Linked DNA regions of Homo sapiens: region 1 is linked to region 2. Evidence: fine-mapped expression QTL. A gene starts in region 2. The other region holds a variant in brackets. All regions are shown on one strand. Distances are from middle to middle. Region 1 overlaps LINC00534 (long intergenic non-protein coding RNA 534). Region 2 holds the start of CALB1 (calbindin 1).

What was found. PIP is the estimated chance that this variant, and not a neighbour inherited with it, causes the effect.
Region 1: its variant is the best candidate, but not a certain one, in a credible set for the expression of CALB1 in stomach (GTEx, PIP 0.60).

The regions. Positions count from the first base shown.
Region 1 is chr8:90,323,569-90,328,957 of GRCh38, reverse strand. All of the region lies in intron 2 of LINC00534 (long intergenic non-protein coding RNA 534), which reads right to left. The region is part of intron 6 of LOC124901975 (a long non-coding RNA gene); the gene reads left to right. Among named protein-coding and RNA genes, the nearest start is that of LINC00534, 100 kb to the right of the region's middle. The variant A/G (reference allele first, on the strand shown) is at 3,121.
Region 2 is chr8:90,079,879-90,085,267 of GRCh38, reverse strand. CALB1 (calbindin 1) reads left to right here and starts at 2,389. Exons shown (of 11, transcript NM_004929.4): 1 at 2,389-2,649; 2 at 3,166-3,242. The coding sequence starts at 2,571.

The DNA.
Region 1 (5,389 bases), 240 kb before region 2:
TCACGTAGATATGTAGATACACCTTTTGTGAAACTTCAAGTATTTTGCCTATTTTTGTATTGAGTTGTCTTTGTTTCCTTTATTGATTTGTGGAAACAGTTGATATTTAATATTTTCAGGGCAAGACTACACATAACTTCTCTGATTACCTAGTTTCTACTTTTGCGTTCTTTCTAGCTATTTAACACAACATTAAACCTCTCTACTGCAGCTTCCCCATCCACATACAAGAAATAAAAGTAATACTGTCTTACAGTTGTTGTGAGTACTAAATAAGTTTAAAAACATAGACCATATCAAACAAAACATGGCACACACTAAACACTCAAAAACCATACTAGCTATTATTATTTCTCTCTTTTTTTTTTTTTTTTTTTTTTGAGACAGGGTCTTGCTCTGTGGCCCAGGCTGGAGTGCAGTGGCACGATCACGGCTCACTGCAGCCTCAAACTCCTGGGCTCACATCGTCCTTTCTCCTCAGCCTCCTGAGTAGTCAGGACCATAGGTGTGCACCACCACAGCCAGCTAAGTTTTAGTTTTTAATTTTCTTTCTTTTTTTTTTTTCTGTAGAGGTGAGGTCTCACTACATTGCCCAGGCTGGTCTTAAACCCCTGGGTTCAAACAATTCTCCCACCTCACCCTCCCCAAGTATTGGGATTACAGGCATGAGCACTGCGCCCAGCCTATTATTATTTCTTATAGTAGCATTGTGTTAGTTTGCTAGGGCTACCATAACAAAGTACCACAGACTGGGTGGTTTAAACAACAGAAGCTTATTTTCTCACTGTTCTAGAAGTCAAAGATCAAGGTGTTGGCATGGTTGGCTTATTCTGAGGCTTCTTTTTTTCTGAGGCTTGTAGATGGCTGTCTCTTCCCTGTGTCTTCATGTGATCTTCCATCTCTACATGTCTATATCCTGATTTCCTCTTCTTACAACATACCAGTGATTTTAGGTTACAGCCCACCTTAATTACCTTATTTTATTGTAATCACCTCTTTCAAGACTCTATCTCCAAATACAGTCACATTCTGAGAAACATATTTCAACTCATAACAAATATATCAGAGATACTAGCAGGCTGTGTATCTTGGCAGTGAGAAAGGTTTAATCTTTACTTTTTGTAGAGATGGGGTCTCACTATGTTGCCCAGCCTGGTCTCAAACTCTTGGACTCAAGTGATTCTCCCACCTCAGCCTCCTGAGTAGCTGGGATTATAGGCAGGCATGTACCATTTGTGCCCTGCTGCTTTAATTTGGTTGGGTTTGGTTTGGTTATATTTGTTTTGTTTTTAATAATCTACCCTAAATTTAGGTCTTGATGATTCTTTCTTCCAGTAAGCCTCTCCTCTAGCATCAGTGGCTATACTACCCCCTTGAGGCTGAATACAAGAGGAGAGTAGATGGAGGAGTAGGTTGGTAGAGAGGTAAGGAATTAGATAGACCGAGGGACCACGGAGAGGGTAAGAAGCAAGATGTCCCAAACAAGAGCTGTATCTTTCCTTCTCAGCCTCAATTTGCACTTTCAAAGCTACTGTTCTCATCTTGACTCTGCAAATTTGGCTCTCAGACTGCTTCAGTGTGAGAAATGGAAGGCAGGTAAAGCAAGTTGGCCACAACCATTTTACTATTATTTTTTAAAATATTATATTGGTATGGATAGACAAGAGCTCTGTTTGAAAGAGCTTGCCAGCCATCTTGAGTTTGGATTTTATATTATGAATGATAGAAAGCTGATCTATATTTCTAGATACCGCATTAAGATGGTCAAAGTTTGGAGAATTATAATCTTGTAAATAAAGAGGAAGAAATAAACAGAAGAGAGAAAAACTAATGGCAGGGCAGGCAAACAAGGCAGGTGACACACACCTAAGATAAAGTAAAGGCTGCAGAGGTAGAAGAAACAGCTGGATTAGAAAAATGATCCCTAATCTCAAGTGGGCAGGGTTTGGGTGAGTGCAAAGTAGCAATTGCTGATTGTGAATTACAAGTCAGAAATGATGTCATTAACTAAGACTCAGAATACAGGAAGAGAAGCAAGTCCGGGAACAGAGCCTATCCACTAGGCTGTGGAGTCTTTTATTTATTTATTTATTTATTTATTTATTTATTTATTTATTTTCCTCTCGTTTATTTTCAAATATAAACATTTAAAGCCTACAGGTGTGTCTTGGTCCATTTAAGCTGCTATAACAAAATACCATAGACATAACAACAGAAATGCATTTCTTACAGTTCCAGAGTCTGGGGAGTCTAAGATCAAGGTGCTGGTAAAGCTGGTGTCTGATGAAGCCCTGTTCCCTCATAGACAGTGGTCTTCTCATTCTAATCTCACATGGCATAGGGGCAAGGAGCCTCTCTTGGACCTCTTTTATAAGAGTACCAATCCCATTTATGAGGGCTTCAACCCCATGAGTCCCCACCTCCTAATACCACTACCTGAGAGGTAAAGATTTCAACAAATGAATTTTAGGGAGATATAAACATTTATACCATAGCAACATGTAACTCAAAAATGTAGAGCCATTTTTAGACATGTTGAGTTTCAGGAGCCTGTGGAACAGTCAGGTGCTGATAGACAAAAGTCAGCTAGAAATGGGTTTGGTAGTTAAGGTAGAGATATGTATTTGGAAATATATTAGTTTTTGATTACTAATCCTGGAATTGATACCAACCAGGAGGAGGAAATAGAGTGAGAAGAAAAGACAGCTGTGGGTATTGCTATCTAGAATGAGACAAAGGCAGTGGGCAACATGAGGACAGAGAAGAGAAGGCGAATGGTGCCCAAATGAAGGCTAATCAGGAAGGGCAGTAGGAAAAGCACAGCTGACACTCATCAGAAGAGGCAAGGTCACCGCATGCTTGACTGTACCTTATTGTCCTTCATTCTCCACTCCAAGACATGTGCAAATCCTATTTTTTTTCAGGCTCCTGATACAGTTTGGGTAGTGGTTAAACCACATAGGCTCTGGAGCCAGACTACTGAATTTCAATATCCATCTCTATTACTTACCAGGTATATGACCTTGGACTAATTACAGAACCTCTTCCTTCAGTTTTCTCATTTATGAAATGAAAGTAATTTATGAAATGATTTTATGAAATTTTTTTGAAATTTCATAA[A/G]TTATGAAAGTATGAAATGATTTTATGAAATTATGAAATGATTTATGAAAATAACTCATGAAATTAAAGTACCTGTATCATGGGGTTTGGTCATTTAAAAAATGGGAAACTATATGTGTAAGGATTAACACTCAATAAGTGTTAGTTGTCATTAATATGGAGCAAAGGTACCATGTTGTAAGATGGTTGCAACTTAAAGCAGGTCTTGCCATGGGACCCCAGAGAGAATCCACTGAACTAATGTGCAAGTGAATAAATGCACTTATTCCTTTCAATTTTAAGTCTTTTCTAGAAAGAAATATGCCCAGGAGTTTTACTCAGCATCATCTATTATGTTGCTGCCACTTGAGCCAGTGTAGGGAAACAACTAAATAAAAAACTTGAAGCAGAATATTCAAATACACAAATTCCTAACTCCATACCTCCTCATAATTATAAGCAAGGAGACTCTTCCAGGTATCTGGCTAGACAACCTCAATGGCTTCATCTCTGAAGACATGCTACCATTAAGCAAACTTGGGTTTACATTACCATGACATGTTCTTGTCATACATCAATTATTGCTGCCCACAGCATACTCAGAGTAGAATAAGTATTTTTGCTTGGACTTTCACTCATATACAATAAGCACTTAAGAGTCAAAATCCGTAAGGAAACAGTGGTTTCAGTGCAGCACCTCGGGTACCTTCCATTTCTAGATTTAGTACAGCCTTCTTCACAGTTTACACAGGGTTTGGTTCTCTGATTTACTGTACAGCATTTTCTTCCCCAGACAGTTCAGAGAAAACAAAGTGTTCCTGTGTTTTCTCCACTTTCACATATGTGAGACAAGAGCACCCAGGGCTGGAAATGAGTGAAATCTAGGCACAGCAGGGCAGGACTGGAGCTCAGGTTGGCCTTGGCTGTCATTCTTCCCACTTGAGCATTTCAGCCCAGTGTGTTATGGAGTGGTGAGAGAATCCCGTTTCCTATTAGCAATTTGTATATTTCCTCACACTCTCTCTGCAGTGGAAACTCACCATTTCAGCCTTCTGCCAGCACCTGCCACTTCCTTTTCTTTTGTGTATCTTTTATCTCCTCTTTATCTCTCCTCGCTCCAACAATGAGGTTATATTCCAGTTCCTTTCTTTTTAATATGAAACTCTGATATCACTAGAGCCCAGGCCTCACACTTCTGTCAAATTCCCAGGACATTCAACCTTCCCCAGAGTTATAGGGAGTGGGAGGAAGCAAACAAGGCTGAATAGGACGGCCACGCTGCATCGCACTGACCTCTGAGTCAGTTTCCAAGTGGGGATAATGATGTTCCATGATCAGGACAGGATTAAAGCAGTATATAAGAAAGAGCAAAATGTATGAGTCTGTGATAAATACCAGGAGGGGAATGAGTCACGATGTTCTCTCAGAATCCATTGTGTTAACCCAGCAGGGGTCAGGTAGAGAGGTTTTCTGGTGAACAGCTGCTCCTGTTTACCTTCAGCTCCACTTTTCCAATCATTTTGAACATCTTGTAAAGAGGATTAAAATTCATGGACTGAATCTAAGGGATCAAACTGCTAATAACGTATGCATTAAATCCAGAGGTCATCATTTGCTCTAGATGGAGGACATCACTTGAACTTGGATGTAGAGCTGTTACAAGTCCTCCATGGTCTATAGTTTAATGAGGATCTTTAATTCATGAGCTGGACTGATTTTTAAAAGTCACATTTTCTCAATTAAAAGTGTTATTAAAGCATTAATTTAACTTAGCTCATGTTTTCATTTTATCTAGTAGTCTCTGAAAGATCTAATTTTTTTTTAAAAAAATACCTGTATTACCAAATCTAATAGGTTAGTCTACATCCAGTGGATGAGAAAAGACAAAGTCCACAAAATATGTCTGGGGACTTTATCTACTCTTGTTATTTTGTTACAACCAAATATGGTCAAAAATCCTCAGAGTTGGGGAGCATCTATTTATGATCTTCCCACCCCATCCTGCAAAAAGCCACACCGTTACACTAGTCCTGGAAAGTACTTTAATATAGCAAACAATTGCCATTTGCAAGGATGAAGCCAATGATATAAGTATGTGCAAGATCCACAGGCTGTAAAGAAAACAGAATAAATAACTGAAGGTGAAGGTGTAGTGATAAGGAAGTCCCATAGAGGAGAAAGGAACAGATGGAAGGATTAATAAACTCTTTTCTTGCCGCACAAATGAGAATCCAACCTATGGTCACTGGCTAACAATGCTGCCTGGAAGCCAGATAAGATGGTATGTATT
Region 2 (5,389 bases):
AAGAACACACAAAAAAAACTATGTCCAAACTTGCTGTTTGGACATAGTTCCAAGGAAGTCTCCCATTTATTTCTCACTCTCTCTCAAGTCACAGCACCTATACATTTCTAAATGGAAATTTGGAAGTTGCCATAGCTTCAGGAAAGTGAATAAGAAAAAAGATTACTTTCATATAAATATTTTTAACTTTTACAAATTGTCTTGTAATACTTTTGGAAGTTAAGATAAAATTCTAAAAAACCAACAAACAGATTATGGTGAAAATGTTTAGGAATTTTTACCACAGTGTGTGGTCTCTTTTTAGGAAGAAAATTAATTTTAATTACTTTTTAAAATAGTAGAAATGTTGCTCTTTTTTCATCAGTTTGTTCAGTCCATATTCCTACATACTTTTTCTAGCATTTTTCTTTGTCTCAGAACTGTATCCAAAGTCTAGACATTGTTAGCTCTGTCAAGACTAGCAAGGGTCAGAGTGATTCTTCAAGTCATTCCTTAGTCACTGCATTCTCACTCTCTCTTCAAAGTTTATTCTCTAGCGCTGGTCTCCAAGTTCACACACTATATTTTTCACACAGCGACCCTGGCCACTAACATAGGACCAATAGGACCATCAGTGAGAATCAGATGAGGTATCATAAGTAAAAATAATGTATGAACTGGAAAGTACTATGGAAGTGAGGATTCCATTAAGAAGATTATTGAAATAGGCTAGCTTCAAATTGATGGGTCTCTGAAAAGGATACTTACAAAAAAACTCCACAAATATAATAATGGATAGAGCCCTAATCTCAAAAACATAAATTTGAGGGGTCCCAAACTCAATTACACAAGGTTAAGAATATAGAGCTTGGTAAATTCTCTCTCTCTCTTTTTTTTTTTGGAGACAGAGTCTTGCTCTGTCACCAGGCTGGAGTGCAGTGGCGTGATCTTGGCTCACTGCAACCTCCGCCTCCCAGGTTCAAGCCATTCTCCTGCCTCAGCCTCCCAAGTAGTTCAGATTACAGGTGCCCACCCCCATGCCCAGCTAATTTTTGTATTTTTAGTAGAGACGGGATTTCACCATGTTGGCCAGGATGGTCTCGATCTCGTGACCTTGTGATCTGCCTGCCTCGGCCTTCCAAAGTGCTGGGATTACAGGCGTGAGCCACCGCGCCCGGCCGGTAAATTCATTTTAATTCACTTTAAGCTTATATTGGCTATGTGTAGATTTTCTCTTGTTCCTTCATTTTGTTTTAGTACAATTGTAATTAGACTTTTGGGATACATTTTTAGTGGACTTCAAGGTCCAAAAGACTCAAAGCCAAATACTCCAGAAGTACTTATGTAAATAAGAAATAATCCAAGTATATAATTAATTATATTAAAATACATAACACATATACATATGTATATATAGTACAGAACATATATACATATGTGTGTATACATACATATATATTACATATATATATATATATATATATATATACATAACATAGCATACATTTAGTTAGATAGCTTTTCCAACTCTGATGGTGACTTCCAATTTCTGAAAAATTCTCCAGTAGGGGTTGCTTGAAACAGAAAGAAGGAGACGTGTGTGTTAAGGCGACTGAATGGGGCTGTGGTGGTAGCACTAACGTACCTACTTATGAACCTGGTCAGATCCTTCCTTTCTCTTTGTTTTAGTTTACTCACTCCTTCTAAACTGAAAGGCAGTAAACTCTAGTATCTGTAAGATGACTTCCTTATCTAAGATTTTAAGGTTTTATAATTTAACTGTATTACTTTCCAATTATAATTCTACTTCATGCTGAAAAGAAATCCATAATCTAGCTTTTTTCGTGTTGGCAAGGTTAGTTCATAGAAACCATCTTAAGAAACATTGACATGATGGCACAAAATAGAGTGATTATTGATAGCAATCAACTCATTGTATACATTAATCAAATTATTCTAATGCGTGCCAAGGTTTCACATGCTTTTTTTTTTTCAAACAAATACTGAAAAGTCTTGGAGAAATCACACAAGAATATAATAATCTTTTATGTGATTTTACCCGTCATCAGCTTTCCCCTTCTATCTGAACATTTAAACCTCTCTAGATAACAAGAGTTTTACTATAATATTCAGGAATAAGATTCTTCCTGGACTAGGAGGATGTAGGGGGAAATGAGCCTCTGTTTTCAGCATCCAATCTCTGAGCAAAGGATCTCCCACCACCTGCTGCTTCCAACAAGCCCAAACTCTCGCTCCAGCTAGCTTTCCTGGGAACAGAGCAGAAAACTGGAAGGGAGGGGAAGAAGGCTGGTGAGAGCAAGAGGCGGGGAGTGAGGAATGGGAGGCTGGAGGAGGCGTGGCCCGGCTTGGGGCCGTCGGGATAAATACTGAGAACTGGGTGCGGGGTGTAGGGAGAGAACTCTGGAGGAACGCTGAGCTGAGCAGCACCGAGGACAGCGCCCGGCAGCGCCCGCGCCCAGGTCTCCCTCCGCAGCCCTGACTCGCGCACACGCTGAGCTTTTGCTCACTCCCCCTCGCGCGGACACAGACACACGCATATTCACACACCCAGACACACACCCCGCTGTACAATGGCAGAATCCCACCTGCAGTCATCCCTCATCACAGCCTCACAGTTTTTCGAGATCTGGCTCCATTTCGACGCTGACGGTGATTATCTTCTCTTTTTAACTGTTTCAAGACCCGTTTCCATGCCCCTTCCCATTCTTTGCCCTTTTCTGAGCCTCCTGATCCCATTATCCCTCCTTTCTATTCTTTACTTCTTCCCCCTTCTGCCTAATCTTATCTTCTTATCTCCCCGACTGGCCGCCAAACTGTCAACCTGAAAGTTTATATTGTTTCCACCGTAATCCCAAAACCTTAAACTTTTGTCTTTCCAGGAACGGTAATGGTAGGAGAGAGAGAGCAGGGATTGGGGAATGCTGCCCCCCCAAAGTTTCTGTGGCTGCGCTTAGCACCCCAACCATCCTCCTTTGTCCTCAGTGGATCTAAAGTTTGATACCCCAGGAGGGGAGCGCTTCACCGTCTGTACACTTTGCTGGTTAATCAACGTCCAGGCAAGAGAGAGCCTCTCGGGTCGCCAGAAAGATAACTGTCTTGGAAAGTGAACGGGAAAGACACTTGGAATGAGATATCTGACACCTGGGTGCCTCTTTGTCTTTGCAGGAAGTGGTTACCTGGAAGGAAAGGAGCTGCAGAACTTGATCCAGGAGCTCCAGCAGGCGCGAAAGAAGGCTGGATTGGTAGGTTCAAGTTTGCGAAAAAGAAAAAAAGACTTTTAACCCCCAAATTAAAACATTCTTGTGTTTTCACAAAAAGCCAGTAGCGTAAAGCGCTTTCTGGGTAATGTAAACGTTTATTGACTGCGAAAGGCAAGAAAAAACACTTTTCCAACTCGAATACAGAGAAATGGGAAAGGGGAAAGAGACTGAGAAAGAGAGAGGGGGAGAGAGAGAGAGAGAGAAGGGAGGGACAGAGAAGGGAGGGAAGAAGGGAGAAAGGGAGACAGACAGAGAGAGACAGATTTTCTAAAGGGAAAAACCTTGCTATCTGAAACTGGAGCTTTAAATATATATATATTCTATACTAGTACTTGCATTAATAGGTCTTAAAAGGGAACTGTGGGTGCATGAGATTCTTTAGCGGATCACCACCTCTACCACTGAGTTTGATTAGGTAATTTTTAAATTCTCTTTTACTGTGTGAGAAATAAGGGGGTGGAAATGCATTTCTGCCCCTTGGTGGTCAAGAAACAGATCTGCAGATTATGGATCTCTTACTCTATCACCAATTATTATTGTTGTGATGTTGATGTAGTTGGGGAGATGAGAAAACATCTTGTCCTCACTAAGGGTAAGTTGCCCAACTTGCAACCTAACAGTGAGAAAGAATTTAGCAAGAAAAGATCTTCATTTCTGTTGAAAGCAAGAAACCCAAAAGGTAGAGAAGTAAAAAGTAAAACAATTTTAAGAATTTCATGTATTGTAAAAAAAGCAAAGTGATACTCTGATGGGCAGCAATTGATGGTGTTTTGAAAATGGCTATGTTCGTTATTTAAGCCATTAGTTAATTAAACAAATAACCATTCTTATTAATTATAAATGACTCCCTTTGGGCATAAATTAACCTGTTAAGAAAATATGTTGTCAGCATAAATATAAAATACAGTCAGCTTTTAAACATAGATGAGATGGTTGTCCAGAGGAAAATGGGTTAAAAATTGTACTACTCTATTGAGGTTTATGTAACACTGCCTTTCAGAAGGCAGTGTTGAATTGGGATGAGTTACACGTTAATGGTCTTTGGCCTTTTTGACTACGTTTAGAAAGAGATTTTACACTACCAATGATGTATATATTATATAGCAGATCACCACCTCTAATATTGAGTGATATATATAAAATTTAATAATAGAACTTTTTGCCCTATCTAAATTGAAAATTGTGTAATATACATTTCTGTACAGCATATTCAAAAGAATCCCAGAGGGCTCTAAATGTATTATAATGCACTATAGAACTATCAGTTACAAAAATCATTGACCAAATTGATTTTAAACCAGATTGTGCTCTAGGGATTGTTTTACCCAGATTTAATATTATATAATCTAAAAGTATAATAGAACGGAATAAAATAGCATAAAAATGTTTTATATACTCTCCACCCTCCCCATGTCTTATATATTGCCATGTAAATAAATTTATGCAATACTGTCATTATAGCTTTATATATCTTTGGCTAATCTAATAAAAGCAATTATCTTCCTCATTTAAAAATACATATTTTAAAATCAGGTTGGAAAAGTCTTACTTTCCATAAAATTTAGAATTAAAACCTTGGAAGATGCTTCCAGCAGGTAATGATTATATTTTATTTTGTGCAGAAGTAATTTTAATATTGAAATCTATTTTCAGCTTAGAAATTTAAATATTCATGAACTTTAAAAAAATATTTTTCTTCCTCTGATTTTAATATTTGTACCTTTTTGTAAGCAATATCTTCATGTTGGAGATTTAGAATTTAATTATTTTTCTCTGTTTTGGAATATTCAAAGCTCCAATTATTAGACTATAATGTAATGATACTAAACAAGCATAGTTATAGGATTATATCAAGTTGCTTAATACCTTGATTCTTGAGCATTTTTCTGGAATGTAAATACAATCTGGATTTTTCTGAATTTAGTATTTTTCTTGATTTGGGTAGTTAAAATCTAAATCAAGATGTGGATTCAGAGTTTCATATAGTAGATACATGTTTCATTATACTACTAACTTCATTGCATTAAACCTACTTGTATATATTTCTTCTCTTTCTTTAGAACATAAAAATTGCCCTTATAAACCAGGCTTTTTGCATTTCTAGCCATAGGATAACAGATTTCATTGCA